3 separate regions of the Homo sapiens genome follow, and all the other regions are linked to region 2. Evidence: fine-mapped expression QTL. A gene starts in region 2. Each other region holds a variant in brackets. All regions are shown on one strand. Distances are from middle to middle.

Region 1 (8,182 bases), 26 kb after region 2:
GTGTCTCTGCACATGAGATGGGTTTCCTGAATACAGCACATTGATGGGTCTTGACTCTTTATCCAATTTGACAGTCTGTGTCTTTTAATTCGGGTATTTAGCCCATTTACATTTAAGGTTAATATTGTTATGTGTGAATTTGATCCTGTCATTATGATGTTAGCTGGTTATTTTGCCTGTTAATTGATGCAGTTTCTTCATAGCGTTGATGGTCTTTACAATTTGGCATGTTTTTGTAGTGGCTGGTACTGGTTGTTCCTTTCCATGTTTAGTGCTTCGTTCAGGAGCCCTTGTGGTGACAGAATCTCTCAGCATTTGCTTGTCCGTAGAGGATTTTTTTTTTTTTTTGAGACGGAGTCTCGCTCTGTTGCCCAGGCTGGAATGCAGTGGCATGATCTGGGCTCACTGCAAGCTCTGCCTCCTGGGTTCACGCCATTCTCCTGCCTCAGCCTCCCGAGTAGCTGGGACTACAGGTGCCCACCACCATGCCTGGTTAATTTTTTGTATTTTTAGTAGAGACGGGGTTTCACCGTGTTAGCTGGGATAGTCTTGATCTCCTGACCTCGTGATCCGCCCGCCTCAGCCTCCAAAAGTGCTGAGATTACAGGCGTGAGCCACCGCACCTGGCCCTGTAAAAGATTTTATTTCTCCTTCACTTATGAAGCTTAGTTTGGCTGGATATGAAATTCTGGGTTGAAAATTCTTTTCTTTAAGGATGTTGAATATTGGCCCGCACTGTCTTCTGGTTTGTATGGTTTCTGCCAAAAGATCTGCTGTAGTCCGATGCGCTTCCCTTAGTGGGTAACCTGAACTTTCTCTCTGGCTGCCCTTAACATTTTTTCCTTTATTTTCAACCTTTGTGAATATGACAATTACGTGTCTTGGTGTTGCTCTTCTTGAGGAGTATCTTCGTGGTGTTCTCTGTATTTCCTGAATTTGGATGTTGGCCTGCCTTGCTAGGTTGGGGAAGTTCTCCTGGATAATATCCTGAAGAGTGTTTTCCACCTTGGTTCCACTCTCCCCGTCACTTTCAGGTATAGCAATCAAACTTAGATTTGGTTTTTCACATAGTCCCATATTTCTTGGAGGGTTTGGTCATTTCTTTTTACTCTTTTTTCTCTAACTTTGTCTTCTCGCTTTATTTCATTAATTTGATCTTCAATCACTGATACCCTTTTTTCCACTTGATCAAATTGGCTACTGAAGCTTGTGCATGCGTCACAAAGTTCTCGTGCCATTGTTTTCAGCTCCATCAGGTCATTTAAGGTCTTCTCTACACAGTTTATTCTAGTTAGCCATTCGCCTAACCTTTTTTCAAGGTTTTTAGCTTCCTTGCAATGGGTTAGAACATGCTCCCTTAGCTCGGAGAAGTTTGTTATTACTGACCTTCTGAAGCCTACTTCTGTCAACTCGTCAAAGTCATTTTCCATCCAGCTTTGTTCCATTGCTGGTGAGGAGCTGTGATCCTTTGGAGGAGAAGAGGCACTCTAGTTTTTAGAATTTTCAGCTTTTCTGCTCTGATTTCTCCCCATCTTTGTGGTTTTATCTACCTTTGGTCTTTGATGTTGGTGACCGACAAATGGGGTTTTGGTGTGGATGTTCTTTTTGTTGATGTTGATGCCATTCCTTTCTGTTTGTTAGTTTTCCTTCTAACATTCAGGTTCCTCAGCTGCAGGTCTGTTGGAGTTTGCTGGAGATCCACTCTAGACCCTGTTTGCCTAGGTATCACCAGCGGAGGCTGCAGAACAGCAAATATTGCTGCCTGATCCTTCCTCTGGAAGCTTCGTCCCAGAGGGGCACCTGCCTGTATAAGGTGTCTGTCGGCCCCAACTGGGAGGTGTCTCCCAGTTAGGCTACACAGGGGTCAGGGACCCACTTGAGGAGCCAGTCTGTCTGTTCTTGGAGCTCAAATGCTGTGCTGGGAGAACCACTACTCTCTTCAGAGCTGTCAGACAGGGACATCTAAGTCTGCAGAAGTTTCTGCTGCCTTTTGTTCAGGTATGCCCTGCCTACAGAGGTGAGGTCTGTAGAGGCAGTAGGCCTTGCTGAGCTGTGTTGGGCTCTGCCCAGTTCAAGCTTCCAGGCCACTTTGTTTACCTACTGAAGCCTCAGCAATGGCAGACACCCCTCCCTCCTCCAGGCTGCTGCCTTGCAGGTCAATCTCAGACTGCTGCGCTAGCAGTGAGCAAGGTTCTGTGGGCATGGGACTCGCTGAGCCAGGCACAGCCGAGAATTTTCTGGTCTGCCGGTTGCTAAGACCTTGGAAAAGTGCAGTATTTGGGCAGGAGTGTCCCATTTTTCCAGGTACAGTCTGTCACAGCTTCCCTTGGCAAGGAAAGGGAAATCCCCAAACCCCTTGCACTCCCAGGTGAGGCGATGCCCCTCCTTGCTTTGGCTTGCCCTCCGTGCGTGGCACCCACTGTACAACCAGTCCCAATGAGATGAACCAGGTACCTCAGTTGGAAATGCAGAAATCAGCCATCTTCTTCATCGATCACCCTGGGAGCTGCAGACTGGAGCTCTTCCTATTTGGCCATCTTGGAATGGACTCCAACCTTCTTTAATTTTTTTGAGCAATATTTTATAGTTTTCAGTGCATAGGACTTGCACATCTTTGGCTGGATTTATCTCTCAGTATTTTACACTTTTTGGTGTCACTGTAAATGGTGTTTTAAATTTAATCTTTTGAGTGTTCATTGCTAGTGTTATGGATTGAATTGACCCCTCCTTCCAAGAGATACATTGAAGTCCTAACCCCTGGTACCTGTGACTGTGACTTTGTTTGGAAATAGAGGTCTTTGCAGATGCAATTCATTAAGATGAGGTAATGGAGTGAGATGGGCCCTTAATCCAATATGGTTGGTGTCTTTTAAGAAGAGGGAAATTTGGACATAGACACACAGGGTGGGAAGATGACGCAGAGATCCAGAGAGAGAATCCAGCCAAATGACAATGGAGGCAGAGAAAGGAGTGATTAATTTACAAACCAAGGAATGCCCTGGACTGTCAGAAAACACCAGGAGCTAGAAGAAGCAAGGAAGGACTCTCTCCTAGATCCTTCAGAGAAAGCATGGCCCTGCCAACACCTTGATGTCAGATTTCTATCCCCCATCACCTTGGTAATGAGTGTTTATCATTTTTAAGTTCTGGTATCATTTCAAGTCCTCTCCTCTAGTTACTTTGAAATATACATAAAATTGTTGCTAAGTATAGTCACCCAAGTCTGCTATCAAACATTAGAACTTATTTCTTCTATCTAACTATATGTTTGTATACATAATCAACCTGTCTTCATCCTTTCCTTCCCCTCCACCCTTTCCAGTCTCTGGTATTTTATTTGGAGATTTTCTAGATATCTTTCTATTATTGGTATTTACTTTAATACCATTGCAGCCAGGGAATATATTTTATATAATCTGATTCTTTTAAAATTGATCACTACTTATTTTATGGCTATCTTGGTAAATGTTCCATGTGCAATGTTCTTGAAAAAAATTCTGCTGTTGGATGGAATGTTCTATAATCAATTAGTCAAATTAGTTGATACTGTCGGTCAAATCTTTTACATCTTTACTGATTTTCTATTTGTTCTATCAACTATTAAGGTATGGGTATGGATATTACTGATTATCCTTGTGGATTTGTCAATTTATCCTTGTAGTTCTATTGGTTTTTGCTTCATGATATATATATACACACACACACACACACACACACACACACACACACATATATACACACAAACATATATACATACACAGAGAGAGAGAGAGAGAGAGATAAAGAGAGAGTCTTACTCTGTCACCCAGGCTGGAGTGCAGTGGCGCAATCATGGCTTACTGCAGCTTTCACCTCCCCAGGCTCAGGTGATCCTCCCAGGTAGCTGGGACTACAGGTGTGAGCCACCATGCCCAGCTAATTTTTTGTATTTGTATTTTTATTTTTTTCTGAAACTGAGTCTCACTCTGTTGCCCAAGCTGGAGTGCAGTGGCATGATCTCAGCTCACCACAACCTCCACCTCCTGGGTTCAAGCGATTCTCATGCCTCAGCCTCCACCTCCTGAGTAGCTGCAACTGCAGGTACATGCCACTACGCCTGTCTAATTTTTGTATTTTTAGTAGAGACAGGGTTTCACCATGTTGCCCAGGCTGGTCTTGCACTGCTGGGCTCACGTGATCCACCCACCTTGGCCTCCCAAAAGTGCTGAGATTATAGGTGTGAGCCACTATGACTAGCCCAGCTGTTTTTTTGTTTTTTTTTGTTTTTTTTCAAATTCAGTCTTTGTATAGACTGTCAAAAATTGTCAGTGCTGACTATGTTGCAAGTCATCACAGTGGGGTATTGGGAAAATTTTTCAATTAGCAATAGTCATGCCTCAGATAAACCTCATTGGCTATGATACTTGCCATTGTGCAAAGCTGCTTCACGTACTTTGAATCTCTGTTATTGGGTACATAAGTGTTTAGAGTTATTATGTCTTCTTGATGAATTGACCTCTTTATCATTATGAAATGATTCTTTTTTATCCCGGGCAATATTCTTTGCTCTGAAATCTACATTATTAGTATTAGTATAGCGATTCCAACTTTATTTTGATTAGCATTAGCATGGTACATTTTTTCTATCCCTTTAGCTTTAACCTATTTTTGTCTATATTTAAAAGGATTTCTTTTAGGCAGTATACAGTTAGATATTGCTTTTATAATCTAATCTGACAAATTATGCTTTTTAATTGG[A/AGTATGTATGTAT]GTATGTATGTATGTATGTATGTATGTATTTTGAGACTGAGTCTCACTCCGTCACCCAGGCTGGAGTGCAGTGGTATGATCTTGGCTTACTGCAACCTCCGCCTCCTGGGTTCAAGTGAGTCTCCTGCCTCAGCATCCCAAGTAGCTGGGATTACAGGTGCACCCCACCACGCCTGACTAATTTTTGTATTTTTAGTAGAGAGAGGGTTTCACCATGTTGGCCAGGCTGATCTTGAACTCCTGACCTCAACTGATCTGCCCTCCTTGGCCTCCTAGAGTGCTGGGATTACAGGCATGAGCCACTACGCCTGGCCTTTAATTGGAGTATTTAGACCATTTATATTTAATGTGATTACTGATATAGCCTGGTTTAACTTTTGGTCTTGTTATTTGTTATCTATCTGTACCATCTATCCTTTGTTTCTTCTTGCCTCTTTTTCTCAGGAACATAAATAACTGAAATTCAAAATAGTGAATATGGCCGAGCATGGTGGTTCATACCTGTAATACTAATACTTGGGGAGGCCAAGGCAGGTGGATCAGTTGAGGTCAGGAGTTGGAGGCCAGCCTGGGCAACATGGCGAAACCCTGTCTCTCCAAAAAATACAAAAGTTAGCTGGGCATGGTGGCAGGTCCCAACTACTCGGGAGACTGAGGTGGGATGATCAGCTGAGCCTGGGGAGGTTGAGGCTGCAGTGAGCCAAGATCATGCCACTGCCCTCCAGCCTGGGCAACACCGCAAGACCCTGTCTCAAAAAAAAAAAAAAAAAAAAAGACAAAATAGTGAATATGGTGGGAGAGATTCAGAGAAAGATTTGGGACTTTATAGAAGAGAGATATTAAGTCAAATCGATGATGTCAGGAATGACTTACTCAAGAAAATATTCAAATTGAACCTTGAAATATTTTGCATATGAGTGATGGTGTAAGGAAGGTGCTCCATATAGAGGCAATAGGATGAACAATGGGATTGGAGGCAGTAAAGCATGTGTTTGGGCTAGGGAATAATAGATTGTTCAGATAGCCTGAGAAAGAGTGGCAGGAGAGATGTGGAAAGTGCTTATGTTATTAACAGCTTCCTATGGATGTCCCTACCGTGATAGTCCACAGATACCTGAGATACCTGTCAAATCCCACATATGATCTACCCTTTAAACCTGCTCTCTCAATAGCCCCTAATTTTATGTATGGCATGACCAGCTTCTTTAATATACATACCAGAAGCCTCTGAGTCATTTTAAATGCCTCTTTGTTCCTCAACCCTATTCATCCCACCTGCAGGTCATCTCTTCCAAATTTCAGCTTTTTTTTTTTTTTTTTTTTGAGATGGAGTTTCGCTCTTGTTGCCCAGGCTGGAGTGCAATGGCATGATCTTGGCTCACTGCAACCTCTGCCTCCCAGGTTCAAGCAATTCTCCTGCCTCAGCCTCCCAAGTAGCTAGGATTATAGGCATGTACCACCATGCCCAGCTAATTTCGTATTTTTAGTAAAGACGGAGTTTCACCATGTTGGCCAGGTGGTCTCGAACACCTGACCTCGTGATCACCCGCCTCAGCCTCCCAAAGTATTGGGATTACAGGCCTGAGCCACGGTGCCCGGCAATGAGCTTTCTTTTCTATCCTTATCTATCCCCACAGCCTTGGAGCCAGGCTCAACTCCCCTCCACCACCCTGCCCCCAAACTATTTAATTAGCCTTCTTACTGGTTTTGCTACTTCTAGATTTTTCTCTCTTTAAACCAATGCCACACATACCCCCCAGCATGCCCTGAGAATGGATGTGAATTCTGTGTGTGTACATGTGTACATTGTTCTGGTGAGCGCTTGTAGCTTTCATCAAAGTCTCAAAAGTCCACAAAAGGCTAGGAGTCACTACCATGATCTTTATTTCAGATGAAACCGTGCTCAGTAAATGTGGTGCAGTTGACAGACTGCTGAACAGTAAGTCAGGAGACCCGGGTTTTAGTTCTGGGGCTGCCACTAATTAGCCGTATGACTTTGGGCAATGAGGCACTTACTTTGTACCTGTTTCCTCATCTGTAAAATTCAGAAAGTCTCTTCCAACCTCAAAATGCTATTATTGAGAAATTACCATACAATTATTATTAAGAAATTGCCATACAATGTCATAAATGCTAAAACAAAGGTATGCAGAGCTTTGAGAGCACAAAGGAGGTTCTCCGGGTGTGGGGTCATCTAGCTTTGCTTGGGAAAATTGGTAAAGAGTTGCAGAGGAGGCCACAGTTCAGTCTTGAAGGATCAACAAAACTTTCCAGGCAGAAAGAAGGAGGAAGGCATTTTAGGCAAAGGAAACTTTGTGAGAAGGCAGAGAAGTAATAGAGCCTCAAATTGGCAGAACAATGAGTAGATGCGTATAGTTTGGATGTACGTGTGTTGAAAGTTTGGGCTTTAAATGCACAGGGAGCACTAGGAGATAAGCCTGGAGAAGGCGAATGAGTTGGGGCCTGAAGTTTCTTATGTATGGTGCCAAAAAGTTTTGACTTTATCTTGTAGACAGTGGGAAGCCATGGATTGTTTTAGGTAAGAGAGTGACAGGCTGATTTCCCTTTCATAAAAATCACATTGGCAACATGGGAGGAAGACGGATTGGAAGGGAATGAGACATGTTTGGAAATGATAAAGGTCTGAATAAGCCAAGGGGATAGAGGTGGAAGGAAGATAATGTTGTTCCTTTTAAACCTATTACATTTAAGATACCCAAGGAATATCCAAGTTAAAATGTATGGTAGGAAGTTGAAAATTTGAGTCTTATGCTCACAAGATAGACCTGGATTTAGCAGCACTCATAAGTGAGTACTGACTGAAGCCACAGGAGTGAATGACATTGCTTTGGAAAAGCATGTGGAGTGGGGAGTAAGGGGGCCAAAGGCTGAATTCTGGGAAATAATAGTATTTGAAGTCAGGAGTAGAAAACACATTGGAAGGATGGCTGGGGTGCAAGGAGCTGAGGAGTGAAGGGAGGAAGAGAGATAGTAAAGAATCTATCCATTTTTTTTTTTTTTTTTTTTTTTTGAGATGGAGTTTCACTCTTGTTGCCCAGGCTGGCGTGCAATGGCACGAACTCGGCTCACCGCAACCTCCTCCTCCTGGGTTCAAGCGATTCTCCTGCCTCAGCCTCCCGAGTAGCTGGGATTACAAGCACCTGCCACCATGACCGGCTAATTTTGTATTTTCAGTAGAGACGGGGTTTCTCCATGTTGGTCAGGCTGGTCTCTAATTCTCGACCTCAGGTGATCCACCCGCCTCAGCCTCCCAAAGTGCTGGGATTACAGGTGTGAGCCACCAGGCCTGGCCTAAGAATCTACTCTTTTAAGAAGGTTGGATGAGAAAGAAATAAAAGCGAAGGCTAAAGCAAGAGGAGGCTGCTGAGTGGAGGAAGGTATTTCATTTTATTATGTCTGCTGGGCAAAGATCAGTGAAGAGGCC
Region 2 (8,182 bases):
AACACCATAGAAAAGACCCTGTCACCCAGCATCCCATTCCCAAAAAAAGTTTGGCAGGAATCGAAGTTAAACTGGGGAAGCAGGGACCCCTGGAAGGTTGGGGTCCCAATGGGCCTCAGATTGGATTTTTATTCCTTCCTGAATTCAAACTCCAAAGCTAGAGGAGCTCTCCCACTCCTATTGTGGAAAAGGGCAGCTGTTGCCCCTGTCCCCAGTCAGGGGAAACTTGGAGCAGGAGTGGAGGGGTCATCTCAGGAGGCCTAAGGAGAAGTCATTAGTCGGAGATGATGCAATTGTGAGTAAATGTTACAGCCTCTGGCTCAGGCTAGTTGGATGCTCAGAAGCTGGGGGCTAGGACCCCTAGAGTCCCCACTATCTCCCCCAACTCACAACTGAGAAGGAGTTAGATAAACTGAGGGAAGAAAGAAAAAAAGTGAAATGAGAGGGTATCCAGAAAAGGATAAGCTAGTGAAAGGAAACTAAGGAAGTAGGGGGTTCCTGGAAGGGCTGAAGGCGGAAAGGGAGGCTGAAAGCTGTGCTGAGAGGGATCCGAGCCTGAGGGGAGAAAGGCCAGGCGGGCGTGGCCAGGAGGGGAGTAAGCCCAGAGCTGGTGGTGACAGATGGGTGGACACAAAGAAGAGAGCTTCAGGGAAGACAGATGGATGGGGGAGGGAAGAGAAGAGGTTGGGGGGGTTAGGGGGGAGCCCAGTGGTTGGAGGCCATAATGAGATTGGAGATGGACTATGAGCTGAGGAGAGGTGAGTGAAGAGGAGAGAAGAAAGGGGAGGCCGCCTTAGGAGACAAAGGCAATACAGCCTAGAGGGCCGGGAGGAGAGGGCTCAGTTGGGTGCTGAGAAGGGGGGCTTCCAGCCGGGCTGGCAGCAGAGAGAGTGACAGATTGTGTAGTGAGCCAGAGTGGAGACCCGCTGTCACCTTCCAGAGGCACAGAGAGGTGGAGACAGAGAAAGACAGACTGACAGAGACCATGTGGAAAAACAAGGAAAGAAGCTAAGACAGAAGACATCCAAGACAGGCTGTCCCTTCCCAGAAACAACAGCTCCTGCCCAGGAGGAGCAAGCTCTGCCTGTCTTGCTCCTGTGACCCAAAACACTGCCACTGTTACAAAATAACACCCTAGCCATAGGCCACTCCTGGGAAGGGTCAGGCGGTGTGGCACAGCGAGGGTTAATGTCGTCTGCTGTCCCTGCCAGCCGCTTGCCTGGTTGGGTCCCCAGGGCTCCCCACATATGTCACCCCCTCTCCTGCCAAACCCACTGCTTCCCAGCTCCTCCAGGCCCTCCCCCCACCCTCAAGGACAAGGCCCAGGCCCCTGTGTCTTCCCTACACACCAACCTCCCTCCCCTCCCTCAACGATCTACCTCTCAGGCTATGGGGAAAGATTTGTGAATCATGATCTGAAAAAGTGAATGCCTATAAAATGTAAAATAGCAGGAACACTCATTCTATTGTATCAGGTTTTGCTTGATTATCGGATTATAGCAAATAAAAGCCAGTGGAGATTTTTAAACAACAAAAAGAAAGTAAAATAACAACAAACTATAAAGCCATAATCATCCTCCTTATCCCCAGGCCCTGGTCTTCCTGTCCTCCTTGCAGCAAAGACCCACACACAACTCCAAGGGTTCTCCCTTTCACTGGGGCCAGAGGCCAGACAACCTGGGTTGGCCTCAGAGCTCTCCCCTGCCTCCACAATCATAATGCTTCAGATATATGTGTGTATGAAACTTCTTGCCACTTTTAAATCACCATAGGAGGTTGGGATGAGCACTTTATACAGTTCACCTAGCACTTTCCCATGCATTATTTCACCTGGGTGTCACTACTATAACAAAATAAAACTCAGCCAAGGTTAAGTGACTTATCCAAGGTCACCAGGACTTAGACCCATGTGTAGCTGCCCCCAAATTTAGTAGATGTAGTTCTTCCCACCATTTCATGCGTTTATGTCCTCTTTGTCACAACTATGTTCTTTTTTAGCTACTCCCCTAAGGAGCAAAAGCTGAAATCCTAAGTGAAAACTGGGGCAGGAGGCCCCAGAGTCCAGGATCCTGGGATGCCAGATGCAGAGGAGGAGGAGCAGCCCCCAGAGCACTCTTTCACCCTCCTCTCCCGTGGAACCTTAGCTTGAACTGCGACGGGTTCAGGCGGTGTGCTTCAGGGATGGAGGTTGCAGAGCTTAAGTATCTGAGCAAAATGGCCTGAAAGGAGGGAGCCCTGCAAGGGGTTTGGCTTCTTCCTGCATGCTCTATGCCATCCTCAAGGTTCCTTTCTGCTTCGGGGGTCTCTCTAGATTCTGCTTCTTTTTTCCTCAATGTCTTACTTTTTGGGATCTGGCCTCCCTGTTTCAGTAATAGTTCCTCATCTCCATCGTTCAGTTTATCACCTTTCCCCACCTTGTTCTCTTTGTCTCTGGTATTTTTTGTTTCCTCCCAACTGTCTGCTCTCTGCTTACCCCGTGCCTATGTGGCCCCACCTTGCCTTGGGGCCTCCCTCAGGACTCTGTCTCATGGTGTCAGTATTTCCCTGCCGCTGAATAGCTGTTTCCTCCACATATGTATTCATCCAAGTCTGTGTCTCCCTAGCAGCCTCCTTTTTTTTTTTTTTGACGGAGTCTTGCTCTTGTCACCCAGGCTGGAGTGCAATGGCACAATTTTGGCTCACTGCAACCTCTGCCTCCCGGGTTCAAGCGATTCTCCTGTCTCAGCCTCTCGAGTAGCTGGGATTACAGGCGCCCACCACCACGCCCAACTAATTTTTGTATTTTTAGTAGAGACAGGGTTTCACCATGTTGGTCAGGCTGGTCTCAAACTCCTGACCTTAGGTGATCCACCCGCCTCGGCCTCCCAAAGTGCTGAGATTACAGGCGTGAGCCACCGTGCCCGGCCACAGCATCCTCTTTTAAAGCCTCTCCCCAAGTCTCTATCTCTCCCATAGCTTGGGTCTCCAAGTCTTCCACAAAGCCTTGGCAACCTGGCAATTCTGTTTCCATTCTTTTTTTTTTTTTTTTTTTTAAATCTTTTTACCTCCTTTGTGTCTCAATCTCCCCATGAGACTGTGTCTTCCCATTTCCCTATGTCTTTCCCATGTCTGTTACCCAATGACTCTGGTTTCTCATTTTTTTCTCTCCCTGAGTCTCGGTATCTTCCCGTGTCTTTCTCGTCGTTTCCCTCCGCTTCCCCTGTCTCTGTTCATCTCCCCTTCTTTCTGTATCTCTCATCTCCCCCATGGCACTCTCTCCTGAGTCTCTTGGTCTCCCAATTTCTTGGATGGGGTGGAGGGCAGGAGAGTGGAGGAGGTAGAATTGTTGTTGCTGGGGGCTCATTAGGTGGAGATTGGTTTTTAATCAGCACCATGGCAATGATGATGCAAGAACTGAGATGCCACCTGATCCCCTGCCCCCCAGCCCCCCTCCTCAAGCCTCCTTTCCCCTCCAGCTCAGCCCATCTGCTGGCGCCTGGGCACCTGTCTGGGCCTGCCCAGGTGGGAGTTGGCACCTCCCAGACTCAGGGATGGGGGCAGGTGGGGGAGCTTGGGGAGGAATTATGGGACCCCCTTAGGGAATGCTTCACCCTGGAGAAAGCCCAGAAAAGGTTGACCAGCAACAGGGAAATGGCAAGTCCCTCCAGCCTGAAGGTGGGATGTGCTCCTACTAAGCTCTAGGCCCACTACACATATTATCTCCCTTAATTTCCATGGCAACCTAAGAAGCAGCTATAATCAACCCCATTTTACAGGAAAAGAGGTCCAGGCTCAAAAGGTTGTTATTTGTCCAAGGTCACACAGCTGACAGAGCCTTTTTCACTGTACCACACTACCTCTGGAGTCCTCTCCAGTCATGGTTCTTTTGAATACTCTCAAAGGTTCAGAGAAGACATCCAACAGCTGAGTGGGGAGAGAACTTCAGACACTGAAACCCTCTATGCACTGTCTCTCTATGCACTCTGGTCCCTGTGCTGCCCCTCCTCAATCCTGCCACTCGGCAACACACACATACACACACACACTCACACTTACATTCACATTCACACACACTTGCATATACATGCTGGAGGCTGCTGAGCTATTGATGGGAGCTTAATCAGTGCCCATTTGCATATAATTTTGTGTCTGGTTTTCTTATTGCTGATTTGATGCCCTCAAAACACACTCAGAGCCTGCCTAGGCTGCCCTGCCCTCCTCTCCCAGTGTCCTTCCAATCCTGGTTCTTCCTGTCTTGGCACTCCTCCACTCCTCTCCTTTTAGCCCTTACCTCTTTCTTCCTAAGAGCCCTCTAATTCCCAGTGGGTCAGGTTGGGCTGGCCAGCCTAGAAAAACTCCTTGTGGGGTCTGTGTCCCAAATTTGATCCTGCTCCTCCCCTTGGTGATGGGTTAGGTAGGAAGATAGCGGGTGGGGTAAGAGGGTATGGGGGTGATTGAGTCCCAGGGTGATGAGGGTAGGGGCCTGAACAGTTGCTACAGGCAGGCTGGCAAGCAGTGGGTACCAGCTTTATGAAGGATAAGAGCTTGAGGGCCAGGACCCTAGGGTCCTCTTCTGCATTTTAGTGCTACCCACTTGCTCTTTTCTCGGTTTCCCTGTTAGTACCTTGAAGAGTCTCCCTCTCAGGAAAAAAGAGACACCAGGAAGGGGCTGTCCAAGTCACGCTGGGACTCCGAATGGGGCCATGGCACTTAACCATAGCTTGCTGGGAGCCTCTGCCCTGCTGCCTCTGGTGTGGGAGACTGAGGGGGTTCATCTGTGGTCCTGCCCTGGCTCTCGCCCCAGCCCCACCCCTTCCCCAGCTCTCCATTTCTTGCTTATGAAATATGCATGGAGAACAGATGTCCCTGCTCCCCCGCTCCCCGCCCCCACCCAGGGCCAGCCCCCGCCCCCAGCTCCCGAGGGGTTCCCAGATCCCTCTGCCAATGGCTGCCTGGCCTGGCTGTTTAATATTGATGAGGGGGGGGTGGGCCTGGGCCAGCCAATGGAGAGCTGGGGGTGTGTGTGTGTATCTCCATATATATACATAGGGCTGGGCCAGCTCAGGTGTGTGTGTCTGAGGGTGTGTGTGTGAGTGTGGCTGGCCCCAGTACCTGGCCAAGCCCACCACTTCCACCTGGGCCCTACACCCCCACAATGTGTACCCCTCTTATCTGCCCTGGAGCCTGTACAGCCATGCCACGCTACCCCTGAGAGTCTAGAAAGCTGGTCACTAACTTTGCAGACGGATGAGCCTTGAGCACCCAGAGGAGACTGGGGCTGTCAACGCTGCCCCTTGTCCTGCCGGCTTGGATCCCCTGACAGGGTCCTTCTAGGTAAAGGGGAAACCATGGGCGGGGAGGGATGGGCGTGTCCCTCCCATTCTCTGGCTCAAGCCCCTTCCTAGAGCCTCCCTCTAGTTCTCTCCCTTGTGCGCTGTGTCTCTCCCTGTCTCCGCGTGTCCCTCTTCTCCACTCCTCCCCTTCGACTCTTTGTGCCTATCTATCCTCAGTTGGGTTAGGGCTGGCAGAAGTGGGGTGGGAAGTCCTGTCCTGCAGGCTTGGAATTGCTGCTCCCCTGATCCTTGGACCCTGGAACTTTGAGACCAGAAGTGGATTTGGGGGTGAGGACTTGATGGGTAAATAGAAGCTGCTGCCGGGACTGGAACTGGGGAGGACAATGGGGCCAGGTGGAGATGAGACTGGGGCCAGATGGGGAGCACGGAGAGGGGAAGGAAGGGCATGGCAAAGTGATGAGGGATGAAGGAACATAGGGACCGGGCAGAGAGAATTAGCCTGTGATAGATGTGATAAATGTGTTGGGAACTCCGCAGCTGAACTCCTGCTCCCAGCCCCAGCATGGGGGGTGGGGAGTTGGGGGCACTAAACATGTACTGGGAGGTGCTGACTTTGGGGCCTCCCACACTATTGCCATCCCCCCATAGTTCATTTGAACCCCAGAATATGGAATGTGTTCTCAATTTCAGCACTAACCACCTTCTGTTTCCTGTTAAGATTGTGTGTGTACTTGTCATCAGATGTGGATGACTTTGCATCCCTCCAGAGCTTCATAGCTGTTTGTTGGCTTGACTTGAACCTATCTTCTGTGTGGTGGGGTGGGGCAAGGCTTGGGAGGATCCTAACCCCTTTGAGAGTATCTATCAGACAGGAAAGCCAGGGCTGGGGAGGAAGGGGAGATAGTGATGGTGCAGGCACCTTGGTGCTTCTGTTTCTAATCATTCTTAGTTGAGCTGATGGTGAGTGGCCCACTGTTCCCCTTTAACACTGCACACAAGCAAAGCCCTTTCCCCAGCTTTTCCCAGGCCATGTTTGTGCTGCCTTGCCCTGATCTCCTCTGGTCCTAGGACAAGCAAACCTTAGCTGAGTCCCATAAGGGTAGCTCCAAAAATCTGTCTGTGTCCTCTGCAGGCCGTGTCTGAACCTTCCTTGGGCTATGGGAGAGTATGGGGGTAGAAGGTTGATTATGTTCCCTTTCCCCAATCTTCCTTGCCCAGCCTCCAAAAGGGCCAGGGAATGGCAAGGGCTGAAAATTTCGAAGACAGAGGTGGAGGAAGAGGCTGGTTGTGCACAGTGGGGTGGTGGTGAGAAGAGATATCTTCCCCTGGTTTTAGTGGACAGGATCTCATATCTACAATGGTTCTGCTGGGAAGGTTTGGGGAACTGGGAGGGGAGCTGTGCAGAGCTGGGGCAGCTGCGCAGAGCTCCATATGTCCTAGTCTATTCTACAATGGGCAATCTGTGTGTTTATCCGCTCCTCCACCTCAGGCAGCAAGGGTGGAGAGGGGCCCTGAGAGGGAGGGGACCACAGGGCCAAGGCTTGTATTCTCCCCTCACAACTGGGAAGCATCTAGAGTCATAGCTAACTTCTCTTGGGGCTGTGGCTGCAGTCTTGCTCAGATTTTTTCCTCCTTTTATTTATTCATTTAGATAAAAAACAGCATACAATTTATAATCTTAACCATTTTTAAGTGTACAATTCAGTAGTGTTCAGTATATTCACATTGTTGTGAAACAGATCTCTAGCAATTTTTCATCCTGCAAATGTATAATTCTATACCCACTAAACAACAACTCCCCTTTACCCCCTCCCTCCAGCCCCTGGCAACGGCCATTCTACTTTCTGTTTCTATGAATTAGACTACTTTAAATACCTCATATAAGTGGAGCTATACAGTATTTGTGTTGTTACTGGTTTATTTCACTTATCATCATATCCTCAAGGTTCATTCATGCTGTAGCATGTGACAGAACTTCCTTTTTAGGGCTGAATAATATTCCACTGTATGTATATAATACATTTTGTTTATCTGTTGTCTATTGATGGACATTTGGGTTGCTTCTACCTCTTGGCTATTGTGAATAGTGCTGCTATGAACATGAGTGTGCAAATATCTCTTTGACACCCTACTTTATTTGTATATATACCCAGAGGTAGGATTCCTGGAGCATATGGTAGTTCTATTTTTTATTTTTTGAGGAACATTTATACTGTTTTCCATAGTGGTTGCATCATTTTGCAATCCCAACAAGGCATAAGGGTTCCAATTTCTCCACATCCTTGCCAAGACTTATTTTTTGTTTGTTTGGTTTTTGTTTTTATAGTAGCCATCCTAATGGGTATGAAGTGATATTTCATAGTGGGTTTGATTTGCATTTTAATGATTAGTGATGTTGAACATTTTTTCATATGCTTGTTGGCCATTTGTATAAAATCTTTGGAGAAATGTGTATTCTAGTCCTTTACCCATTTTTTTCTTAAAAAATGTTTATTTATATAAATTTATGGGGTACAAGTGCAATTTTGTTACATGCATAGATTGCATAATGGTCAAGTCAGGGCTCTTAGGATGTCCATCACCTGAATAACATACACGGTACCCATTCTGTAATTTCTCATTTCACGCCCCTCCCAATCCCTCCTTTGCCCATTTTTAAATTGGGTTATTTGATTTTTTGCTGTTGTTGAGTTGTAGGATTTATTTATATGTTCTGGATATTAACCCCTTATCAGATATATAATTTGCAAATATTTTCTCCCATTCCATAGATTGCCTTTTCACTCTGTTGATTATGTTCGTCAATAAATTAAAGTCTGATGTGGTCCCGTTTTTTCTATTTTTGCTTTTTGTTGCCTGTGCTTTTGGTGTCATTTCCAAGAAATCACTGCTGAGTCCAACATCATGAA
Region 3 (8,182 bases), 120 kb before region 2:
ACCACATTTGCTGAGCCTGTTATATATGCTACGAAAGTTTAGCAGTTACAGTTTTTTGAAATGCAGCTGGGCTTGAGCTTGGGAGTGGTGAGCAGGGACTGAAACACCAACCTAACAGGTCTGTAGAAAAGAAAAAATAAAACACCAAAACATCTAGTGTTTATTGTTAAAATTATGAGTAACAAATATAGACAATTTTGGAGGCCTTACCACATTAACATAAGGGCCAGAGGGTATCACAAGCTCATCAAGAAGTCCCCAACAGTAAATCACCAAGATCTAGAGTAGGGGTTTGCAAATTTTTTCTGTAAAGGGCCAGATAGTAAAAACCTTAGGCTTTGCAGACCATACGGAGCTCCACCACAACTACTCAACTCCAGTATGTAGAACAAAAGCAACTCATAGACACTACATAAACGAACAGGCATGACTGTATTCCAATAAAACTTTACAAAAACAAGTGGCAGGCTGGATTTGGCCTGCAATTTATAGTTTGCCAATCCTTGACCTAGCTAATGGTCAAGCTCCAAATCAATAGTATACTTTAACTCCTCTAGAACCCTGTGCCTTTCAACTAAACCCAGTGAAAAATATGAACCACTTTCCTTTACAAAAGATGAATGAATGGCAGTGATAAGAACATATGGAGCAATAAAAAAGCATGTTGAAAATCTCACTTATCCTTCCTCCAATCACATCAACTAGAATTTAGCCTGTTATCCTGACCTTCAAGGTGCTAAGGAATGCTGGACTCTGTGCTGCCCAACTATATCCATTTAAAGGCGGCTTCTCTAATTTAAAAGTTGGCTCAGAGGTGAAGAGCTGGTTAAATAACCCAGGTGGTAGTTATACTCTATTAGAATTTTTATATTCTGCCTTCAAATCTGCCCTAAAGCCAGTGATTTGACACTTGGCAGCACTGGTCCTGAAAAGAAGGAGGAGGGAAAGGAAGGAAGGAAGGAAATAAATGGAAAGAAGGGAGGGGAAGTAAGGAAAGGAAATAAGGAGGGGAAAGATGTCCCACTCCTAGTTGGGTTGTAACTTCATCCCTTATGTAATCACCTTTTTTTTTTTTTTTTTTAAAAAGACGGGGTCTCGCTATGTTGCCCAGGCTGGTCTCAAGCTCCTGGGCTCAAGCGATCTGCCTGTCTCAGCCTCCCAAAGTGCTGAGATTATAGGCATGAGCCACCATGCCCAGCCATGTAATCTCTCTATCAAACTACTACTTACTGTGGAAAGGGACCTCTCAATATAACTGGGAAGCTCATCTTCCCTAAAATTCCCTTGTTCCTACTAGCCATTAGATTTTATTTTTCTCCTTTACTAACAGCATTTCCTAGGTTCTGCCCATCCTTATAGCTTTATAGAACTCCAAACCACTTGACCTCTTAGAAGTACAGCTCTGTTATTGATATTTTGAAAATGATCAGATAAAATCAGAAGAAGCAAAAGCATAATATAGTCCAAGGTGTTTCCTGTGTAGTTTCCTAAACTCAGAACAACACAGGAAAGTTTCCCTCTCTCCACTAAAATCCAGGCCTCCACTCTATCTTGCAGGGAGGAGGACAACCTCAGTTGATAGTAAAAATAGCTTCACCTTCATTTTGGCCCCTTACCATTAGCTAAGTCTGTTCTGCCATCTGTGCTGCTCCCTTTGCTGGACATCTTGAATGATGTTTGCTGTAGCCAGCCTGGGTTTGGGAGAGGAAGAAACCAAAACAATTAGGAAACCACCTGGGAAAGAAGACAATAGGGACAAGGAGATTTAACAATGTACAGGTTTTATCATTTTTATAAAAATGATTTGTGTATGCATGCTTAACAGGTCTTCTCAGCTTGTGAAATTTTTTCTTCCTTATGTTTTCTTCCCTATGTTTAAAATCCATATAATGATATATTTTTGGGGAGGTCAAGTGCCATCTCTTTACTTCACTCACTGAGTAACTGGCAGTGATTTTTCAGATGCGAAAGTGGGAACTAAAATAAAACCTGGAACAGGAGGCACATATCAAATGACAGGTACTGCAAGCCAAGAGTCTCAACTCAATACATAAAGCTAACTTCAGCATTGCCCCCTAGGCAAGAATCTTCCAATGTAAATAAGTGACATATGTATCCTCAAACTCTGTACAACACTTGTTTTCACAACATAAAGAGGTGGGTCAGATTCTGAGTATCATTTTACACACAAATCAACAGAAATCAACCTCTTGGGGGAAGAGATTGAGCTTTCTGTTCACTCAGATGACTAACTTCAAACCTATTATTATTATTCTTTCTTTTTTTTTTTTTGAGACAGAGTCTCATTCTGTCGCCCAGGCTGGAATGCAGTGGCGCTATCTAGGCTCACTGCAAGCTCTGCCTCCCGGGTTCACACCATTCTCCTGCCTCAGCCTCCCAAGTAGCTGGGACTACAGGCGCCTGCCACCATGCCCACCTTTCTGTATTTTTAGTAGAGATGGGGTTTCACTGTGTTAGCCAGGATGGTCTCGATCTCCCGAGTGATCCGCCCGCCTCGGCCTCCCAAAGTGCTGGGATTACAGGCATGAGCCACCACGCCCAGCCCAACTAACTTCAAACTTATTAAAGGCACAGATACTAAGGATTATAGAGCTGAAACTAGAAATCAGGAGCACCCTATCCCTAGGAAAGAAGCTTAAGTTGTTTTGTTTCCCTTAGGACTAACAGTCAGAGTCTCTAAGCACAAAGACAAAGGTGGGGAAGAAAAAGGCAACATTTCCATTAAACCATCTCATCCCATTTCATATAATGGCAAACACTGTTTCACCTAACAGCACCAGCTTTCACCAGACTCATCTTTCCTTAACAAGGAATCAGGGTATCTAACTCACTTCCTTTTATGCCACTATAAAACATTCATATTTTTTTCAGAGCCTCACTGCCACCTCCAGTAAATTCCAAAGAGCAAAGAATAATATTATTCAGACCAGAATTTTATTAAGCCCTTTCAGTGACTTGGACAAAAGGCACTAGTAAAAGACAAAGTATAATTATGACCCCAGTCCTTGTACCCAGGCACACTGGCCTCTAATCTTTCAACAGCCCTTTCATTCCCATGACAATTATTCCAGAAGCAGCCTCATCCTTATCTTTTCCTCCGCTACCCTCTATAGAAATCTAAGCTGCTTCATTAAAAGTATCCTCTGTCAAAAGACAGTAGCCCAAAGATTGTTCATAATAGGCCAAGGTGGGAATAGAAATACTGCAAGACTGGGGCTGAAGCTGACTGAACTTCAGGAAGGGACACCTGGAAGGGTGATGATGAAAGACAATGGCAACAAAAAACAGATATGTGAAGCAACATGAAGAAAAATAGTGAGAAGCTGTTTGCAATGCATTTTGTTTTCCTCATTTTTGAGGTAGACAGTTTTGTATAGCATTCCTCACACAGCACTTGTTTTTCCCTCTCAACAGTCCTTGTTTATATTCTTTAGAATAGGAGCCTATCTTCTCCATCTAGAGTTTAAAATTATATTAATTCCTATCAAGTGGGGAAAATGTACTACTTTGTTAAGATTAATCCCAGCACTTTGGGAGGCCGAGGAGGGCAGATCACCTGAGGTCAGGAGTTCGAGACCAGCCTGAGCAACATGGA[G/A]AAACCCTGTCTCTACTAAAAATACAAAATTAGCTGGGCATGGTGGCACATGCCTGTAATCCCAGCTACTAGGGAGGGTGAGGCAGGGGAATTGCTTGAACCTGGGAGGCGGAGGTTGTGGTGAGCCGAGATCGTGCCATTGCACCCCATCCAGCCTGGGCAACAAGAGCAAACTCCGTCTCAAAAAAAAAAATTAAAAAAAACTTATAAACTAAGGTAATAAGCAGACCAGTGTAACATGAAGAACAGATCTGATGTTTTCCCACCTCCATAATCAAAACTCTTTACCATACGTTTCACCCCACTATTATCCACTCCCAGAGAATTCAAAAGCAGCTGCAGAGAACCTCTCTCAAAACCAAGCATCAACTCCTACAGGAGCCCAGACTGCCTGAACTTTTGACTCATAATTGCTCTAGAAAATACATGTGCACAGATGATAAAAGTAAGTAGAATTAAATGTCAAAATTTCTGCAGAAGGATACTCTAGAGCAGTGGTCTCCAAACTTTGATTATGAACCTATATGAGTGAAAACTTTGAGCAGGAACCTGATGCTCACAGGTGTGGCATGCACCTGTAATCACAGCTACTCAGAAGGCTGAGAAAGGACTGCTTGAGCTCAGGAATTCAAGACCAGCCTGGGCAGAACTGTGAGACCCTTGTCTCTATAAATCAGTCAAGGAGGCAGAGATGCTGTGCCCTAGGTGTCAAGTATAGGAGCCACTGAAAAATCTTTTCCAGCCAGGCACGGCAGCTCACGCCTATAATCCCAGCACATTGGGAGGCCGAGGCAGGAGTTGGAGACCAGCCTGGGCAACATAAGAAGACCCCCGTCACTACAGAAAAGAAAAAAATCAGTCAGGCATATGCCTGTAGTCCCAGCTACTTGGGGTAGGGCTGAGATGGAAGGATCACATGAGCCATAGAAGTTGAGGCTGCAGTGACCTGTGATTATACCACTTCTCTCCAGGCAGGACGACAGAGCAAGACACAGTCTCCAAAAAAATAAAAAATAAAAAATCTTTTCCATTACCAAAGAATACAGTCTTAACTTTATAAACTGAGGTCTGCAGAGAACATATTTGATTCAAATCCAAACTATCTTCTTCACTTTTCACTGTATTTCCAACAAATCCACTATTTTTACTTTGATCAACTTTCATGTAAAATCTAGTCCAAAGCTAATCTTGCTGAGGTTGGAAAAGCTGATGAGCTCACTGTCCCAGGTAGTTGGAGGAGTTTAATTAGATTAGCTCCACTGTTCCTACTCTAAAAATAACCATAACTCCTGCCAAACTGAAGGTTAAAGAGTAACCCACTGGAGGGTGAGGAAAAAAGACCCAGGTGCCATTTTAATTTCACTAAGAAATTCCAGTGACCTAGATTTTTCTTGTCTTAATAAGAATAAAGCCTTAAATTTTTAACCAATTACATGACAAAATATTAACTAAAAACCAGGCAGAAAGACTTTACTACGCTGGATAAGAGTACTCTGTAAAAGAGATACCAAGTGTCTCTTGTTTAAAACTACTGGGGCTGCTCTTTTCCTCTAATATGATGAAAGATCTGCATAAGAGACTACGTATCCCTTGTCCGGTGTATCCTCTTACCCAAAATGCTTGGGGCCAGAAGTGTTTCAAATTTTTAAATATTTGCAATATACCAGTGGAGCATCTCAAATCAGAAAATTCAAAATCCAAAATGCTCCAACGAGTATTTCCTTTGAGCATCAAGTTGGCATTCGAAAAGTTTCAGATTTCAAAGCATTTTAGATTTCAGATTTTTTAATTTGGGATGCTCAACTTGTACCAGAATAACTGAACATTCAACTGCCAAAAGAAAAAAACTAAAGAACCTCAATCCATACATTGTACAATATACAAAAGCTAAGTCAAAATGAATCACAGACCTAAATATAACTTAAAACAACACAAGTTCCAGAAGAAAACAAAGAAAATAACCTTTGTGACCTTGGGTTAGGCAACAATTTCTTAGGATAGGACACAAAAAGCACATACAAAAAAATTAATCAGTTGGATTTATCAAAATTAATAAATTCTGATAAATCTGAGCGGTGGTTCAGGCCTGTAATCCCAGCACTTTGGGAGGCCAAGGCGGGTGGATCACCTGAGGTCAGGAGTTCGAGATCAGCCTGGCCAACATGGTGAAACCCCCGTCTCTACTAAAAATACAAAAATTAGCCGGGCGTGGTGGCACATGCCCGTAGTCCCTGCTACTGGGGAAGCTGAGACAAGAGAATCGCTGGAACCCAGGAGGTGGAGGTTGCAGTGAGCCAAGATAGTACCACTGCACTCCAGCCTGAGTGACAAAGAGAGACTCCATCTAGAAAAAAAAAAAAATTAAAATATCTCCAAGAGATACTGTTACAACAATGCAAAGACAAGCTACAGACTGGAAGAAAGTATCTACAAAACATGTATTTGATCAAGGACAGTAACCAGAATATCCTTTAAAACTGTCGCAACAGGCTGGGGCTGGGCGTGGAGGCTCACGCCTGTAATCCCATCACTTTGGGAGGCCGAGGTGGGCAGATCACGAGGTCAGGAGATCAGGACCATCTTGGCCAACATAGTGAAACCCCGTCTTTACTAAAATACAAAAAAATTAGGCAGGCATGATGGTGCGTGCCTGTAATCCCAGCTACTAGGGAGGAGGAGGTTGCAGTGAGCTGCGATCGCGCCACTGCACTCCAGCCTGGTGACAGAGCAAGACTCCATCTCAAAAAAAGAAAAAAAAAAAACTGTCACAACTAAATAATTATCGCGAGCTGGATATGGTGGCTCACACCTGTAATCCCAACACTTTGGAAGACTGAGGTGGGAGGATCACTTAAGTCTAGGAGTTCAAGGCTGCAGTGAGCTATGATCCTGCTACTCACTGCACTCCAGTCTACGCAACAGAGTGACACCATCTCAAAAAAAAAAAAGAGGGCGGGTGTGGTGCCTCACACCTGTAATCCCAGCACTTTGGGAGGCTGAGGCGGGCAGATCACCTGAGGTCAGGAATTTGAGGCTGGCCTGACCAACGTGGTAAAACCCCATCTCTATTAAAATACAAAATTAGCTGGGGGTGGTGGCACATGCCTGTAGTCCCAGCTACTGGAGAGGCTGAGACAGGAGAATCGCTTGAACCTAGAAGGCAGAGGTTGCAAGTGAGCTGAGATCGCACCACTGCACTCCAGCCTGGGCAACAGAGGAGACTCCATCTCAAAAACAAACCAAAAAAAGTACTGTAAATAATAATCCCTTGAAAAGATCCTCAACATTATTAATAATTAGGAAAATATAAATTAAAACCACAATGAGAATCCACTAAACACTTATTTGAATGGTCAAAAATTGTTTAAATAACAAAAATTTACTTTATTAAGTACTAACAAGAAGTAGAGCAACTACAACTCATATACACTGTTACTAGAAATGCAAAACAGTACAGTTACTTTGAAAAAAGCAATTTGGCAGTTTCTTATGAAGTTAAATATACACTTATCATACAACTCAGGAATCCCACTTCAGCTTCAGGAATTTATACAAGAAAAAAGAGGCTCAGACCTGTTATCCCAGCAATTTGGGAGGCTGAGGCAGGAGGACTGCTTGAGCCCAGGAATTAAAGACCAGCCTGAGTAACACAGCAATACTCCATCTTTAAAAATAAATAAATAAGATAAACAAGAAGGAAAATGTATGTCCACAAAATTAAAAATACCCTGTAGGTGAATGTTTTAATAGTTTTACTTAAATTCATCAAAAAACTGGAAACAAATTTTCTTCAGCTGGGTCATAGATAAACAAATTGTGGTAGGTCCACACAATGGGATACTACTGAGTAATAAAAAGGAATGAACTACTGATACAAGCAACAACATGGATAGATCTCAAGTATGTTATGGTAAGTGCAATAATTCAGACTCAAACAGCTATACAATATATGATTCCACTTATAGTACTTTCTGGAAAAGATAAAACTATAGGAATAGAGGGATCAGGGATTGCCAGGGCTTGGAGGTAGGGGAATGAAACTGACTACGAAAGGGCATGAGAAAACCTTTTGGAATGATGGAAATGTTCCATGCGCCAATCACAGTGGTGTTACATAACTATGCCTTTGTCAGAATTAAAAGAATAGGCCAACTCAAAAAAGGATAAATTTTACTGTATATAAATTATACCTTAATAAACGTGGCCTAAAAAGAGCGAATGCAGGCCGGCGCAGTGGCTCATGCCTGTAATCCCAACACTTTGGGAGGCCAAGGCGGGCAGATCACCTGAGGTCAGGAGTTCGAGACCAGCCTGACCAACATGGAGAAACCCCATCCCTATTAAAAGTACAAAAATATTAGCCGGGCGTGGTAGTGCATGCCTGTAATCCCAGCTACTCGGGAGGCTGAGGCAGGAGAATTGCCTGAACCTGGAAGGCGGAGGTTGCGGTGAGCCAAGATCGCACCATTGCACTCCAGCCTGGGCAACAAGAGCGAAACTGTCTCAAAAAAAAAAAAAAAAAAAAAACAGGATGAGAGAAGAGTGATGGGGGAAAATCATGCAAAT

What was found.
Region 1: its variant is fine-mapped to the expression of NHLH1 in whole blood (INTERVAL, PIP above 0.99).
Region 3: its variant is fine-mapped to the expression of NHLH1 in whole blood (TOPMed, PIP above 0.99).

What each region holds. Positions count from the first base shown.
Region 1 is chr1:160,388,489-160,396,670 of GRCh38, forward strand. The region is part of intron 3 of LOC105371466 (a long non-coding RNA gene); the gene reads right to left. It also overlaps the pseudogene RNU4-42P. Among named protein-coding and RNA genes, the nearest start is that of VANGL2, 8.0 kb to the right of the region's middle. RefSeq lists an enhancer at 4,079-4,128. The variant A/AGTATGTATGTAT (reference allele first, on the strand shown) is at 4,738.
Region 2 is chr1:160,362,025-160,370,206 of GRCh38, forward strand. It overlaps NHLH1 (nescient helix-loop-helix 1), which reads left to right and starts at 5,047. Exons shown (of 2, transcript NM_005598.4): 1 at 5,047-5,313.
Region 3 is chr1:160,242,344-160,250,525 of GRCh38, forward strand. DCAF8 (DDB1 and CUL4 associated factor 8) reads right to left here. Exons shown (of 14, transcript NM_015726.4): 3 at 1,617-1,691. The coding sequence starts at 1,665. Among named protein-coding and RNA genes, the nearest start is that of DCAF8-DT, 15 kb to the right of the region's middle. The variant G/A (reference allele first, on the strand shown) is at 3,617.